Regions from separate parts of the Homo sapiens genome. Here region 2 is linked to region 1. Evidence: fine-mapped expression QTL. A gene starts in region 1. The other region holds a variant in brackets. All regions are shown on one strand. Distances are from middle to middle.

The links. PIP is the estimated chance that this variant, and not a neighbour inherited with it, causes the effect. A credible set is the group of variants that fine-mapping cannot tell apart.
Region 2: its variant is the best candidate, but not a certain one, in a credible set for the expression of NRIP3 in monocytes after interferon gamma (Fairfax 2014, PIP 0.74).

What each region holds. Positions count from the first base shown.
Region 1 is chr11:9,002,783-9,005,591 of GRCh38, reverse strand. NRIP3 (nuclear receptor interacting protein 3) reads left to right here and starts at 1,591. Exons shown (of 7, transcript NM_020645.3): 1 at 1,591-1,830. The coding sequence starts at 1,657. NRIP3-DT (NRIP3 divergent transcript) reads right to left here and starts at 1,504. Exons shown (of 3, transcript NR_183663.1): 1 at 1,049-1,504. RefSeq lists an enhancer at 1,495-2,414.
Region 2 is chr11:9,044,630-9,047,438 of GRCh38, reverse strand. SCUBE2 (signal peptide, CUB domain and EGF like domain containing 2) reads left to right here. Exons shown (of 23, transcript NM_001367977.2): 16 at 1-83. The region is part of intron 1 of NRIP3-DT (NRIP3 divergent transcript); the gene reads right to left. Among named protein-coding and RNA genes, the nearest start is that of NRIP3-DT, 42 kb to the right of the region's middle. RefSeq lists an enhancer at 1-401. The variant C/T (reference allele first, on the strand shown) is at 1,586.

The sequences.
Region 1 (2,809 bases):
GCTTTCCTAAAGAAATGATAATGGAGCTGAGGTCTGGAAGAAGCATAGGAGTTTCCTGAAGAGGGTAGGAGGGGGCACTGCACACAGAGGGAACAGGACAGTCAAAGGCAGGCCATTTGGCAACAGGTGACTGGAAGGAACTGGAAGAAGGCCCATGAGGCTGAAGTACAGAGTGAATATGCAGGGTCTAGGCAGACCATGCAAGAATGTGGGTTTCTCCTAAGAGCAATAGGAAGCCTTTTGAGGTGCTCTTAGCAGGGAAGTGAGATGATCACACTTATCGTTTGAGAAGATTACTCTGGCAGCACAGTGAACAACGTATTGGAATGGAACCAAGGAGCATTCAGGAGGCCAGACAGAAGGTATCAGGTATTTGCCTGTAAAATGGGGGTGATGAGAATACTATCTTACAAGCTGTTGCCAGGATCCAATGAGATACTGCATTTTAAGTGTCTAGTCTAGTACCTGGCACATAGTAAAGGCTCAGTAAGCGTCGATATTGTTACTTTTATCATTGGTTCTTTGCAGAGTGCACATATTTCTTATCCAGGTCTGCTCCTGCGTGATGGGGTGGAGGGAGTAGTTGTGGTTTCCAGAGTGAAAACGTGATTTGTGTCAAATCACAATGTCGAGACCAGAATCCAGGATGCCTGAAGGCCCGATTAGAATGGCTTAAAAGTATGGATTATTCAGGAAGAAAAACGGGTTCCAATCGCTCCTACTAAGGACGCTGGAGGGATGGTGAACGATCCTTTAGATGGTAAGCCCTAGCACTTATTGAGAAAAACAGGTGCTTCTTTGGTCGGAGAGCAGGTGTAGGGCTCGCAGCCGCGTGCGCTCCCGCGGAGGCGGGGGACCCTCGCCACTCCCCCGCCCCACGCCCACCCGCGGGCTTCCGACTGCACCTGCTCCCCCGGCTCGGAAACGCGGGCCGGGTGCCGGGCTGCAGGCAGAGGGTGCCCGGGGGAGGAGGTCCCGAAAGCCTCCTCCACACGCCTGCACCGGCTGCCCCCTCCCCAGTCACGTGGCCCGGTGGGTGGGGACCGACCTGAAGTTGGAGAAATCCGGAGCGCTCCCAACCTCGGAGGGAGTCGCCAGTCCTCCGGGCCCGGGCGGTGGACCCTGGAGCCCCGGCTGGCGGCGTGGAGGTGCGTTTCTGAGAAGCCGAGCAGCGGCGCGGGCGGCGGGACTCGAGGCATGGCCCGGCTGTCGGTGATCCCCGGGTCGGCCACGGCGTGGACAGGTGAGCAGGTACCCGCGGCCAGCGGCAGAGATGGCCGGGGCTGCCAGGGCATCGGGCCCCAGAGCCCACGCCAGTCCAGGGGATGCGGGGCCCCCACGCAGGAGGGGGCGGTTGGGTGAAAAGGCCGCGGTGGATTCTCGGACTGCCGGGTCAGTCCCCACCAGCGCCGCCGCCTCCTCGCCGGCTTTGCCACCGGGTGAGCAGGGGACGCGGGACGCGGGACGCGGGACGCGAGGGAGCCGCGCGGGGCGTGGACTCTGTGCCGGCCCCGCCCCCCGCGCGCGCACTGGCTGCTCCCCGCGACGTCACGCTCGGCTATAAAAGGCGCGGCTCGGGGCCCTTGCGGCGCTGGAGGAGCTCGAGGCTGAGGCTGCCGGGGGGCTGTGGGCTACCGGGCCGCCGGCGCCTCAGCGATGTTTTACTCAGGGCTCCTCACTGAGGGCGGCCGCAAGGAGACCGACATGCGGGAGGCGGCGTCACTGCGACAGCAGCGCCGGATGAAGCAGGCGGTGCAGTTCATCCACAAGGACTCCGCCGACCTGCTGCCCCTGGACGGCCTCAAGAAGCTGGGCTCGTCCAAGGACATGGTGAGCCCCCGCCGCCGTTCTCGCCCCGGCCCCGGCGGCTTCGCGCCCGCCGTTTTCCGAGGCCCGGCCGTTGCGGCTTTCACTGAGTCACGGCCCGGCCCGCCGCTGCCCTTGGCTCGCGGTCGCTGCGTCGCGGATTCCTCCCCTTCCAGTACCCCTGCTGCGGTTTCGGTGGGGATTCCGTCGTAGCTTTTCTAGCTTGCGCTCCCCTCGGCTGTGCCTCCTCCCTGGATGTCTCTTCTCCAGTAGAAAGAAGAGGTCCTGCCCTGCCCTCTTGCCCTCGGGTCTTCTTTCTTTTTCCTTATTCTTAATACCGAATTTTGTTCACGGGGCTTGTGCCTCCTATGCTGTGTGGCTGTTCCTATGACCCAGACAGAGGTGATTCCTAATGGCTTTCCGTGAGGGGGAAAGAAGTGGAAAGAGGGTTTTTTGACAGTTGCCAGATCCAGAGGACTTCTGTTGAATCCATTGTCCCCCTATGCAAAACCCACTTCTCTAGTTTTGGTCCTAACTTTGACCTTCCATCCTGAGTGGGGAGAGAGAAAAGGGGCCAAATGTGAAGGTTTCCTGAACCCCCAACATCTCTTCATCATTCTCCTCTTCCAGCCCCGCCCCCAAGGAGTGGGTAGAGGGAGGAAGCCAGGCTGCTGCATCTCACCGACCAGCTAATGTGTGCATCTGGAGCTGGGGTGGGTGCAGTCTTTTTTTCTAGCACAGTTGTTCCTGGCATTAAGTAGAAGCACCTCAGGACAGGGGGCCTGGGGTCAAAGATGGTACTGTCCTCTTTCTATAGAATGGGATGGATGGCTAAGGGTTACCAATATAAAGAACTGTATTTGTCATCCCTCAGCCACTGTAGTGGTCCTGGGCCAAGTTTATGTTTAACTTTGTAGTTTTATCTGGAGTTTTCTTGTAGTTTGATTGTTTTCTTGAATTTCACAATCGCTTTATTCATTTGGGTGGTAATATGTGAAACACT
Region 2 (2,809 bases), 42 kb before region 1:
CGTGGCTAAAAAGCCTCCCAGAACATCTGAACGCCAGGCAGAGTCCTGTGGAGTGGGCCAGGGTCATGCAGAAAACCAATGTGGTGAGTGGCCTGGGACATTCTTGCTAACAGAACAGCCTTGGGCTCCATAAACACTCAGGGTAACCGAAGGCAAGTCTGGCCCATCCTCCCTTCTCAGGGCTCACTTTAGAGAACACTCCGGGCAGTGCTTCTGTTTCAGTAACTGTTGCGTTTGTGTCTGTCGTCCCTGCTAGGCCCAGAGCTCCCCGGAGTGAGACTGACCTCATTCATCTCCCTGTCCTCAGCACCTGGCATAGTATCTGGCTTGTGGTGGGCACTAAAATGTTGGTTGACTTGAGGAACAGGAAAGAAGTGGCTGATGTTCTGATTCCAAAGCCTGTGCTCTGGTCCCAAGCAGGGTGAATTTCAGTAATTAGATTTCTCCAGGATAAACTGATGTCCTTTTCCTAAGTATCAGTAGAATCATGAGGCCCAAGCTTAGCTAAGGAGTAAGAATCCCATTTGTATTTCTAAGTAAGCAAAGCTGAATCCAGGGGCACTTGTTCCAGAGAATTGTCAGCCTTAGGCCCACAGCTCAAATTTGTTGCTTTGCCAAAACTTAGTGAAAATCAAGTGCAAAATCAAGTGTAACTGTCTACAAGAGGCTGGTTTCCAGATAGTCTTGATTTTCATTCCAGCTGATTCTCTTAAAAAGAAACAAAGTGGAAAAAAGTAAAAACAGCCCAGCTGGTTGATCTGTTCTCATTTAAAATTCTAAGAGTTCCAGTTTCCGTACTAAAATAGTGGGGAGAGTTGGCTGTGGCTGCCCTACTTTCCAGGATGAGTTGCAGAAACTGTCAGGGCCCTCCTGGCCTCTCAGGGTTACACTGCACCCCTCCCCCGTCTGCTATCCTGTTGGGGTTAGGCCTCACGGACGGGCCAGGGAGTCTTTGTGGCCAGTTAAAAAGTCAAGAAAACCTAATGTCAAGGGCCCCATGGACTGGCTCCCAGTGAGGGTATCACTAATACTACCATGGGTATGTTCCTGGGGAGTAAAGGCCCAAGGATAAGGAGCAGGAGTTACTTAACAGGGGCTTCATGACCACAACAGCCTACGAAAGACACTCGGGGCCAGGCATGATGGCTCACACCTATAATCCCAGCACTTTGGGAGGCCAAGGCGGGCAGATCACGAGGTCAGGAGATCGAGACCATCCTGGCCAGCATGGTGAAACCCCGCCTCTACTAAAAAAATACAAAAAATTAGCTGGGCGTGGTGGCGCGTGCCTATACTCCCAGCTATTCGGGAGGCTGAGGCAGGAGAATCCCTTGAACCAGGGAGTTGGAGGCTGCAGTGAGCCGAGATCGTGCCACTGCACTCCAGCCTGGGCGACAGAGCAAGACTCCGTCTCAAAAAAAAAAAAAAAAAAAAAAAGAAAGAAAGACACTCAGTAGAGGGTTTGTGTAGCTGTGGTGGTGTGTGAATGTGTCCCTGAGATGCTTGTCATGCTAAATTAGGTTTGATTTGTTTCTAGGGGAGCCAATGTGTCTTGTCTCAGGAGCTCCCAAACACTGGATGAATT[C/T]TGTAGCCCTCACAGCATCAAATCAGGTCCAGGTCTGACAGCAATGTTGAAGATTTTACCATGCAGAGAAAACGGCTCAAGCAGTTACCAGTGACATTCCCTCTTGCTGCTGAGGGAGGAAGTGGGTGTAAAGAAGTGTCAGGTGTGTTAATTAGAAAGGCTTTTTATCCAGAAGGCAGCATGTGGCATAGACAAGGCTGTGTGTGTGTGTGTGTGTGTGTGTGTGTGTGTGTGTGTGTGTGTCTGTCTGTCTGTCTTCTAGTCCTGGTCTATTTGATGGTGTTAGGACTTCATAAAGACCAGGCTTGCTGATGTTTTCTGAGCTCTGGATGGTACAGTGGAGACAAGCTTAGGATAGTTCCTTTTAGAAATGATTTTCGGTATTTGCAGAAAAGAGCTCAAAAAAAGAAAAATGGAGTCACTTCCATCTCTCCTGGGGGGAGAGATGGAACCATTATGTTTATCTTTTTAAATATTTTAAATTTAGTTTTCAATTATGAAAGTAGTGCCTGTTTCAAATGGCACAGAAATGTATACAGTAAAGATGAAAGTTCTCTCCACAGCTCCCTAATCCAACTCCCCAGCAGTAATCACTGTTATAGTTTGCTGTGTGATTTTTCCACAACTGTTTTTATGCACATATAAAAAGGAAATTTTATATAGTCATTCAATAAATATTTATTGAGCACCAATTGTGTGCCAGGTACCATTCTAGATATCAGGAATCCAGCAATAAAGAAACACGCAAACATCTCAGCCCTCACAGAGTTTACAATTTTAGAGGAAGAAGGTAGACAACCAACCAATAAACGAGGAAAGATACTACTATCATGTAGCAGAGGGCGACAGGGATATGGAGAGCAGGGCTGCAGGGAAGTGGAATGGAAAGTGCCAGGCCAAGGTGAGGGGTGAGGGATGAGGAGCGTACTCCCCCAAAGTGCAGACTGTGGTCAGGGAAGGCCTCATTACAAAGTGTCATTTGGGCAGAGACGCAAAGGACAGCAAGAAGCAAGCTATGGAGATATCTGGGGGAAGAGAGTTTCAGGCAAAGAGAACAACAAATAGGAAAACCCCAAGGTACTGGAAGGAAGGCCAGAAGGATGAGAGCTGAGAGAGGCAGGGAGGGAGAGCAAGGGCAGAGCAGTAGCAGAGGGAACTCGAAACCAGGGAGGACCCTGATCCCGAATCTGATGAGAAAGGAAGCCAGTGGAGGGCTTTGAGCAT